2 separate regions of the Homo sapiens genome follow, and region 2 is linked to region 1. A link means that fine-mapping ties the variant in region 1 to the plasma level of a protein whose gene starts in the linked region. Region 1 holds a variant in brackets. A gene starts in the other region. All regions are shown on their reverse strands.

The links. PIP is the posterior inclusion probability: the model's chance that the variant is causal. The UK Biobank Pharma Proteomics Project read protein levels with antibody pairs (Olink). The fine-mapping took linkage between variants from a reference panel, not from the people measured, so its PIPs are less certain.
Region 2: CR2 starts here. The variant in region 1 is fine-mapped to the plasma level of the CR2 protein (UK Biobank, PIP above 0.99).

Annotation. Positions count from the first base shown.
Region 1 is chr17:83,051,482-83,056,858 of GRCh38, reverse strand. It overlaps QTGAL (queuosine-tRNA galactosyltransferase), which reads left to right and starts at 5,089. Exons shown (of 13, transcript NM_001009905.3): 1 at 5,089-5,122. The coding sequence starts at 5,108. The region is part of intron 1 of LOC124904094; the gene reads right to left. The variant A/G (reference allele first, on the strand shown) is at 3,083.
Region 2 is chr1:207,451,265-207,456,641 of GRCh38, reverse strand. CR2 (complement C3d receptor 2) reads right to left here and starts at 2,314. Exons shown (of 20, transcript NM_001006658.3): 1 at 2,166-2,314. The coding sequence starts at 2,223. RefSeq lists silencers at 1,756-1,865, 2,246-2,475.

The DNA.
Region 1 (5,377 bases):
TCCAGGTCAGTCATGTGGCACTGGGCTTTAACGAGGTAATATTTGCTTGGAAGTTTGGAGACGCTCCGTCAGTCGGATCTCCTTCTCTTTCCAGAAGGCCTGACGGTGCAGGTGGGTGGAGCCAACACTGACTGCGTGCTGACTTGGGCAAGGCGCTGGGTAGGGCTTGGTCCCTCCAAGGGGCCACATGAGGCCGTCCCTTCCCTCTGACGTGTAATAGAATTTCACGGATCTGCAGAACGCCGTCACCTCAACTTCTCTGTCCAGGCTCTGCAATTCACAGGCTTGACTTTCCTTTCGTAGGATCAGCCCGTACCCCCCGGAGCTCCAGGCCGGTACCCCCACCCCTGGCTCAGAATTATCCTCCTGAATTGACTCTGGGTTTCCCTGTGCAACTAGAATCCTACAATCCCCAACAGGTCTGAATCCCAGGAATGTGGGCGGCTGAAAAATGGAACTCGAGGGACCACATCCGCACTTAAGTCTACTGTCCTGAAGACTTTTTCATTTATTTTTTTGTAGATTACTTTTTTAAAAAGCATGGGCTGCAACTCCTTAATAAGTCATTAAATCCACATGGTGAGTCACAGCCTTTAAATAGCTGAGACAGAGTAGGAGAGATGACCTCAGTGCACACATCGCCGAACAGCCAGGCTGCCCTCACGGGCTGCTTTATTATGGGGGTGCTATGGTCACCACGTGCAGAGTCTCCTACAGTCTCGAGCGACCCTGCCCTCCAGGCAGCACCCACTGCCTAGGGGAGGTCGAACCAGGTCTGTTGAGGTTCATCCCCTCTGGAGACTTGGACACACGAAGGTCTAGGGGATCAGGCTGTTGAAGGAACCTGTTGGGCTCTTGTCTTTAAAGCTTGAACTCAGCCCTCACTAGCTGCACTCACATCAGAATCATTCTTACTGGGGACCCAGTGTCCCCCAAGTCTAACACCGTCCGTGCGGACCTGCAGGGAACCTCTGTCTCCCCACCCAGCACCGAGTCTAACACCATCTGTGCGGACCTGCAGGGAACCTCTGTCTCCCCACCCAGCACTGAGTCTAACACCGTCCGTGCGGACCTGCAGGGAACCTCTGTCTCCCCACCCAGCACCGAGTCTAACACCGTCCGTGCGGACCTGCAGGGAACCTCCCCACCCAGCACCGAGTCTAACACTGTCTGTGGGGACCTGCAGGGAACCTCTGTCTCCCCACCCAGCACCGAGTCTAACACCGTCCGTGCGGACCTGCAGGGAACCTCCCCACCCAGCACCGAGTCTAACACTGTCTGTGGGGACCTGCAGGGAACCTGTCTCCCCACCCAGCACCGAGTCTAACACCGTCCGTGCGGACCTGCAGGGAACCTCCCCACCCAGCACCGAGTTTAACACCGTCCGTGCGGACCTGCAGGGAACCTCCCCACCCAGCACCCAGTCTAACACCGTCCGTGCGGACCTGCAGGGAACCTCTGTCAACCCACCCAGCACCGAGTCTAACACCGTCCGTGCGGACCTGCAGGGAACCTCCCCACCCAGCACCGAGTCTAACACCGTCCGTGCGGACCTGCTGGGAACCTCCCCACCCAGCACCGAGTCTAACACTGTCCGTGGGGACCTGCAGGGAACCTCTGTCTCCCCACCCAGCACCGAGTCTAACACCGTCCGTGCGGACCTGCAGGGAACCTCTGTCTCCCCACCCAGCACCGAGTCTAACACCGTCCGTGCGGACCTGCAGGGAACCTCTGTCTCCCCACCCAGCACCGAGTCTAACACCGTCCGTGCGGACCTGCAGGGAACCTCTGTCTCCCCACCCAGCACTGAGTCTAACACTGTCTGTGGGGACCTGCAGGGAACCTCTGTCTCCCCACCCAGCACTGAAGGCTGCTGAGAAGTTCTTCGATTTGGAGACCTGATGTCTTGGTCCATTTGTGCTGCTGTAACAAAATACCTCTGACCATGTGATTGATAAACAGTAGAAATGTATTGCACACAGTTGTAGAGGCTGAGAAGTCCAGGATCCAGGCGCCAGCAGACTTGGTGTTTGGTGACAGCCTGTTCCCCAGAGATGGTACCTTCTATGTGTCCTCACGTGGAGGAAGGGACAGAAGGGCTCCTTCAAGTCTCGTTGAAGGGCACTCGTCCGTCATGAGAGGACAGCCCTCACGGCCCAGTCACCTCCTTAAAGCTCCATCTCCTAACCACATCGCCTTGGGGGTTAGGTGTCAACATATGGTTTGGGGGGACACACACATTGAGACCACAGCACCTACTCCAGGCCCCTGGCAACTGGTACTGAGTCCTCTGAATATAGCCAGTATTCGCCAAAACCTTTTGCACAAACAACAATTAAAAATAAAGAAAACTGGCTATCTGCAATGGCTCTCACTTGTAATCCCAGCAGTTTGGGAGGCCAAGAGCTCGAGACCAGTCTGGGCAACAGCAAGACCCCATCTCTACAAAAATAAAATAAAATAAATAAATACAACTGCCCACTCAGTGAACCCAAAGCTGTGGGGCGTTTTGTGTCACTTCCTCTGCTGGTGCCCACGTGACGTCAATCATCTTTCATCAGCACCTCACTTCCCTCTGAACGAAGACCACACGATCTCCACCCGGCCAGCTCTGAGGCCCCAGGTCCTCCTTCCTGTCTCTCTCCAGGGTACAGTGTCAGTGCCTTCTGTCCGGGCCCTCTGCTGACCTCTCCCCGAGGATCTTCCTACTGCGAGGGCAGTGATCTCAGGCCCCACCACCCTTGGATTTCAGGACCCCACCTCTGCAACCCTGCATTTCTGAAACGCACCTTGGCACTTTGAATGTTCCCAAAAAGGAGATTCTAATCAAATTTGAATTAGGGGGAAGTCAGTGAAAAGCAAATTTCTGGCACCAGGAAATGTACAGGAAGGAAGGTGAGAGGCAAGCCCAGTTCTGGACACCATGTGCTGTGGAGGGGCAGAAGCCATCTGTGACCCCTGACCTCTGGCCCTTACCACCTACCTTATCATGAGCCTACGGCGCATTCTGGCAGCTACAGGGCTACTTTTTACTGAGTCCTTTACAATGAAATGATTCCTAGTACCCCAACCTCTGGAGAAC[A/G]TGAAGTCCCTGGAAGCAAATTCTCAGATAGCTTTTGCTGAACGGTAAATAAGGCTGCATTTTCACTCATGTGACTTAAGCAGTCCACTTGTAAAACAGGCTTTGCAAACAAGGAGGCAATTTAAGGGAAAAAAAACCATCTATGAAGTGATGCTTAACAGAAGTTTGGCTTTGTTGTAACGGTTAATTGACAGAATGATTTGCATTTAATCTTAGTTTTGGACAGCCAAGGATTTGTCCAGGAAGGGCTGCTTACAGCCATGCTCATTAATTGTGAATTACTCATTACTTCAGATCAGCTGGAACAAATCCCAAGCGGGCTTAATCTCTGTGTGCAGGCAGCCCAGGGCTAATGGCAGCAGTCCTTTTTATTGACCCCCACGGCCCTGTCCCCAGTCAACCTCCTCCAAGCAGGGAGTTTCCAGAGGCCTCACAGCCGCCTGGGAGACCCCTCATGGCAGGCTGCTCCCTTGACAAGTTCAGAACTGCTGGGGTTCCCGGCCGCGCGTTCAGGACTCAAATCTGGAGATATCCGCTCTGTGCTCCTCAAGTATAAGGTTAGATAGGGATGGGGCCTGGCCTGTGTTCCTGGCAGGGAAGGCCACCTCTGAGCTCCCCCAGAGCCCGGCCGCCTTCTCCGGGTTCCCAGCCCTGCAGTTCCCAAGGCTGCATGCGGAGGCGGAAATGAGGGCAAAGGTGGAGGGTACCCGGAGCTACTGAGGTCATGTCTTTCCCCAGGCACCCCTTCTCCTGGGGGACCTCACGGTGGGGTCAGGGCCTCACTCCCGGGCACCCCTCCTCCTGGAGGACCTCACGGTGGGGTCAGGGCCTCACTCCCGGGCACCCCTCCTCCTGGGGGACCTCGCGGTGGGGTCAGGGCCTCACTCCCGGGCACCCCTCCTCCTGGGGGACCTCCTGGTGGGGTCAGGGTCTCACTCCTGGGCACCCCTCCTCCTGGGGGACCTCGCGGTGGGGTCAGGGCCTCACTCCCGGGCACCCCTCCTCCTGGGGGACCTCCTGGTGGGGTCAGGGCCTCACTCCTGGGCACCCCTCCTCCTGGGGGACCTCGCGGTGGGGTCAGGGCCTCACTCCCGGGCACCCCTCCTCCTGGGGGACCTCCTGGTGGGGTCAGGGTCTCACTCCTGGGCACCCCTCCTTCTGGGGGACCTCACGGTGGGGTGAGGGCCTCACTCCTGGGCACCCCTCCTCCTGGAGGACCTCCTGGTGGGGTCAGGGCCTCACTCCTGGGCACCCCTCCTCCTGGGGGACCTCGCGGTGGGGTCAGGGCCTCACTCCCGGGTACCCCTCCTCCTAGGGGAGCTAACCCCGGGCACCCCTCCTCCTGGGGGGACATCTCAGTGGGGTCAAGGCCTCAGGCCTGGGCACTTCTCCTGGGGGACCTCGCCCCGGGCACCCTTCCTCCTGGATGACACCCCGGTGGGGTCAGGGCCTCACCCCTCTCCTGGGGCCGTCAAGTGTCCTGCACGCCCTGCTCTCCCTACCGCGTCTGTCTGAAAGGACGCCCTGCAGTCCCCTCGTCCTCCCCGGTCAAGTAGCACAGCCCACAGCCCGGGTGAAATGCAACGACCTTTTACATATCAGCCTTGCTTGAGGCTTTACAGCAACTCCAGGCCGCCTGGCTTGGGTTTGCAGCGCGGCGCCCTCGCACAGCCCCGCCTTCCCCGCGGCGGCGTCTACGGGGGACCAGAGATTGTGACGCGCGCCCTAGGGGAGAGCAGGAGGCTTCCACGGGCCAAGGAGGCGGCTCCGAGAGGTGACCCGGGACCGGGGCGTGGCCCAGGGCGGAAGACTGAGGCGGCGACCTCCCGGCCCCGCCCCGCGCCGAGCAGCCCCGCCCCTTCCACGCCCCTCCGGGAGGCCCACCCCTATGGACGCCGCTCTGCACCAATCGGAGATTGCCTGGCCTCAGACCCGCCTCCTGGTGCCGCCCGCGCAGGCGCCGTAGGCCGAAGCGGCGGGATGAGCGGAGCCGGCGTGGGCGGGGCGTCCGAGGAGAGCCAGGCCATGCAGGCCCACGTGGTAGGTGCCAGCGGGGAGGGTGCCCCGCCGTGCAGGCTGGGTCCTCGCGTCCCCTCACCCCGCCCTCCAGTCCTCTCTCGCTCCGGGGTTCGCAGCCCCGCACCGCCTCTCGGGCTCACCTACGGGGTCTCCGCCCTGAGCAGCCCTTAGGCCCCGCGGGCGAGCGCGGCTGCGCGTGCGGGGGACGCTCGGGATTGGAGCCCGCGGGGCGCGGCCGAGATCTGCAGCTCCGGCTGCGCTTCCTGCCCCCGTCCC
Region 2 (5,377 bases), not on the chromosome of region 1:
GCATAGGATAAAGTTAGGTGGCCACTGAAGGCTTGAGTAAAATCTAGAAGTGTAGGAAATTTGAAACTGTTTATGCAAATAGACAAAAGGAAAAATAGGAAAACACTAAAAAGGAAATTTGCTTCCATTGACTTTGCTTATAGCAGTGTGCCCTATAGATACTTGTTGCAGAATCTTCTAGAGTGATTGTTAAACCTCAGCTTTCCTGTGCTAACTCCAAACCTATGAACCTCTGGAGGGGGAGGTGGAACCAGGAACCTACATTTTATAAAGGTACTTTAGTATTTTATTAAGCACACTCAAGTGCAGGAACTGGCCAAGAGATGATGTGTGGAGAGCATGCAGTAGCAGTAAAAGTTAGCAGTGGAGAGTGGGCAAAGCATGAGCCATGGGAGACAGGTGGGGAAGACCATGAGCAGCGCATACAAGACAGGCAGCTGGAGAAATCAGGGGGTGTGAGCTTCGGTGAGATCCCATTCCAAAGGGCTAGAAAGGCTGAAGACACCAGATTTTCTTCCACTGGAGGCCTTTTAGATTTTTGAACAATGGAGTGAAATAATGAAAATATATATATTTCTTAATTTTTTGTTTTCATAATTGGAAAGTGACCTATAGGTCACTCTTTAACCTTTCCAATCATAAGAACCAAAATCTCTTAAAAGAGATGAGGTTGTTACACAGGTAATTATAATGCTTAGGATGGGAATACTGGTACAAAAATGAGAAATGGACAAACAACAGAAGCACAGTAGCTTGAATGGCTGATAGGTAGACCTGGTATTTCATGGGGCTCCAGTTAAGTGACCTACATGATGCTGCTGCTGTGGCCCTGAATTGGCAGGACTGGTGAAGAATTTGATTTTCAGTTGATAATATCCTCTTTGAAATTTAGAAATAGGTGAGAAGTCAGGGACGTACTCTGCTCTTAGAAAAAGTGTGAATATACATTTGTTCAAAGGGAGTTAATATGCAGAAAAAGAAAAGAGATGAAGATAATGGTCTGGAGAAAGGTTTAAGGGTCAGGAGACAGTAAAATGTCAGGAAAGCAAAAAGTTGTAATAAACTAATATGTGCTGTATTCCAGACACCTCAATAAGCTGGATGTCCATAGAAACAATTGGACACCCAGCTTGTTAGCTTAAATGCTGGCTCCATAAAATCAAGTCTGTACAGGAGGCTTATTACTGATATTTAGTAGTAACGACTAACATCCAACTTTCTTTGCTTAGTTTCATCTGTGCTCAGGGCAGCTCAGTGAGGTGGAAGGCCAGTTAATCACTAGTTTCATTTTACAGATGAAGAAACTGAAGATCAGGGAGCTAAATGACTTGCCAAAAGTCACCCAGTTATTGAGGTCTGCACACAGTAAACGTCTTATAAACTAGGAATGCACGGTACCGTGGAGATAATTAGAAACTTAGACCCATCCTGTAGCCAAGAGACGCTAATCTTAATTATAATCTTTCTTTAAAATCAAGCCAATCTGGAGGAAAAAAAGATATAATAAACGGTGAATGAGACCTTTGCGGACGTCCACACCATTACAGTAGGTTAATAACAAGAAGAAAACAATAGTTTTAATCCATGTCTCAAAAATAACTACGGATGGTTAATGTTTAGGATCTCTACCAATATCACATTAGAGTTCAGAAAATCTGAGACCCATGCTTGGGAACCAGGTCTTACTCTTATTTAGGGAAGGGAGCCGAGGTTCTGCCGCTTTTGCTGGGCAAGAGCGCGGTTCGGGTGTACAGAAACAGCCTCACGTGGCTAGCTGGTGCCTCATGCAGTGGGTAGGTTTCCCGTGGCGAGCGGTAGCGCTGACCGCCGGCCAGAGAGCGATGAGCACCTGCAGAATCCTGGGGGCGGGGAGCCCGGCAGGAGACCGCGAGCACCCGCACGCCGCCAGCCACACCGGGCCGACCAGACAGCGCCCCTCTGTGGCGCAGCCTCCAATTCTGGAGGTCCCAGCTCCCGGAGGGGCCAGTGGGGACAATCAGGACCAGGCGGTTTATTGCAGTGGTCCCTCAAAGCTAGCGGGAGGCGGACACGCGTCGAGCACTGCCCCCACCGTCTCGCTTTTGGCCCCCTGCTTTGCATCGCGGCACAGAAACTTTCCCTGCCCGGGACGCGTCCCCACCTCCGTGCTCCCCCTCCCAGCTCACCGAGGACCCCCGGTGCGACGAGAGCCAAGAAAACCCCGAGCAGGCCCGCGGCGCCCATGCCACGGCCGAAGCCCCCGCGGCGGGATGCGTTCCGAGACCCGCGAGCGTCCGGCAGCTCTGGGAGGGCAAGGCTGGAGCAGCAAGCAGCTGTGAGCCAGGAGAGGCGGGCCCTTAAATAGTGTCCGGCACACGTGCTAGTTCTGAGCGCACACCTGCAGGCGGCCTGGGGGCTGACGCGGCGCCGGTGAGGGTGGGACAAGCGGGAGGGACGGCCCGGCACGAGGTGGGCGGGGAGCTCTGAGCCACTCTTTGGCTCAGACTCACCCCTCGTTGCGGTGGCTTCCCCACTTTTTTGACCACGCAACCCACTACACTCACTTGTTTCTCTTACTAGAACTTAAACAAAACTTTCACAAGTTAGTACTCACCCTTAGTAATCTACAATGTTCGTCCTCTGTGCCATGCTGTGTTATGCTAGACTAGGCTAGGCTATCCTATTCTTATTAGAAATCCACCAAACTCATTTCAAAACCTATTAGTGGATTCATCTCCCAGTTTGAAAAAGCAGTGTAAGTTTACTTAGGGAATTTAGGAACAGCAGCCACTTCTGCTCTGTTCTTTATTTTGAAGTAATCTCTACAGAAAAGTTTCAAGAGTACTGCAGAGAATTCCCATATACTTGTCACCCAGATTCTCTGCATGTTAACATTTTGCTGTATTTTCTTTACCATTCTCTATTCTTTCTCTATAGACATATATGTACATATATGTGATTATATAATTATAATTATATAATTATTACTTTGGAACCATCTAGCATTTATTCCTATTCTAAATGGTTCACTAAGGACTTTCTGTTCCATAACTAGAGTGCAATGATCAAAAATAAGAACTTAACATTGACACAAGACTATAAGCTACCATCTGTATTTAAATTTTGACAATCATCTCAATAACCTGTGTTATGGTAAAAACAATAACAACAATAGAAACCAACCTTTGTTTTTCCTGGTCCAGAATCATTTCAGGATCATGTATTGTGTTTGATCATTATGCCTTCCCCCCACCCCCAGTTCTTTATTCTGGAAAAATGTCCTCAGCATTTTTGGTATTGCATGACCTTTACATTTTTGACGAATACACCACAATTATTTTTGGAGAATGACTTTTAAGTCCGTTATCTATTATAATAACAAATTACCCTGAAGGTAGTGGTGTAAAGCAAGAATAAACATTTATGATCTCACAGTTTCTGTGGGTCGGTCAGGTGGTTCTGGCTTGGGATCGCTCAGGAGATTGCAGTTAAGACACCAGCTGGAGGTGCAGTCATCTGAAGGGTTAACTGGGATAGGCGAATCCACATCTAAGATGGCTCACTTACCAGCCTTTGGCTGGAAGCTTCATTCTTCACCACGTGGATTTTGCCATAGGGCTCGCTGCTTGTGTGTTGAGTGTCCTCGTGACATGCCAGCTAGCGTCTCTGAGAACAAGAAAGAAGAAGCCATAATGTCCTTTGTGACCTGTCCTCAGAAATCACAATATGTTAACTCCAGAATATCCAATTGATTGTACAGATCAGCCCTTTTCAGTGTAGGAGGGCAGTATACGTGGATGGTAATGTCAGGAGACAGGATCACACCCCACAATTTGGATTTGTCTATCATTTCTTCATGATAGATTCAGGTTATTGAATCTAATTATTTGACAGGAATACCAGAAAGGATGTCTTATCCTTACGGGGAGGCATATGTTGTCTATTTGTCCTATTACTGGTGGTGGTAACTTTGATCACTTAGTTAAGATGGTGCCTGCCATGTTTCTTAGTGTAGACTCAGTATTTTTCCCTTTGTAATTAATAAGTATTTTATAGGGAGATACTTTAAAACTATGTAAATTCCTCATTTTTTCATCAAATTTTTACCCACAAATTTTAGCGTCTATTGATGATCCTTTCTTGAATCAATTTTTACTATGATGGTTGTCAAAGGGTGTTTTTTCCTAATTTAATAATTACTTCTATATTCATCTGTTGGCATTTTACTGTAAATAAAAGTTTTCCCTTCTCTATTTATTTATTCATTTATCTATATCAGCATAAACTATATCAATATGAATTTTATTTATTTACTCAATGGGTCATAATTCATGGCTACCATTATTTATTTTGATGCTTAAATTCTCCCTGATCGGGCCAGTGGGAGCCCTCAAAATAGTTCCTATGTCATTTTGACTTGTTCTTATTGTTCTTTGAGCACTTCCTTACTTTCTGGCACACACACAAAAAAAAATGCTCCAGACTCACCTCTAGACCTGACACTGGAATTTGCTGTTTCTCCAAGGAATGCTGGTTCTTTCTGGCAGAGAATGGCATTTAGATGCCAGAATTGGATGCTAAGTGTGTTCATTTTTATTGGAGTATCATTGTTTCCGCACCCTCTCAGCAGACAGAGCAAGGATATGTATTATATATATATATGTATATCCATTCCCATATCTATATTTATATATGTCATGAATTCACAGTGATTCTTCCAATTTCAGTCCGTTAGCATAGAGTTCATTCTGTCCTTCCCTCTTTCTGCATGTGTAACTCCCTTCTTCAACAGTGAGACACCTAGATCCACAATATATTTACTTATTTGCTTAATCCTAGAATACACAGAAAGAAGTTTAAAATTGCTATTTCTATACTATGATGGAAATCAAATCTACTCGTTTTTAAAGTTTTATTTTGTTTATAGCCCGAAAATATAAAAACAGCATTGTTGTGTTCCAAAGTTACTCAGATTATTCCCCCTCTTCAGTGTGATTGTTATTCATTCAAAATACTGTTAATTTGTTTCTCTTTGTATTCTATTTTAGTTTCCCCTCAATCTTTTTGATTTTTTTTTGCTTAAATAAAACATTAACGTAGTCCCAAATGTCAGATTGATATAAAAAGACACAATAAAAGGGAAATGTCACTTCTCTCCATCACCTCTATCCTCTCCACCATAGGTACTCAATTTCAGTAGTTTCTGGTTTGTCCTTAGTTTTGCTCAAATGAGCTGCTACACATTTGTCTTCTTAGTTCTCCTTTTTTATTACATTTTAAAAGCATGCTATAGGTATTCTTTTGCACATTTCTTTTTTAACTTAACAAATATGCTGGAATCCACTATTTCCTACAAATTCAAATATTCCTCATTCATTTTTACAGTTGCATGCAATAC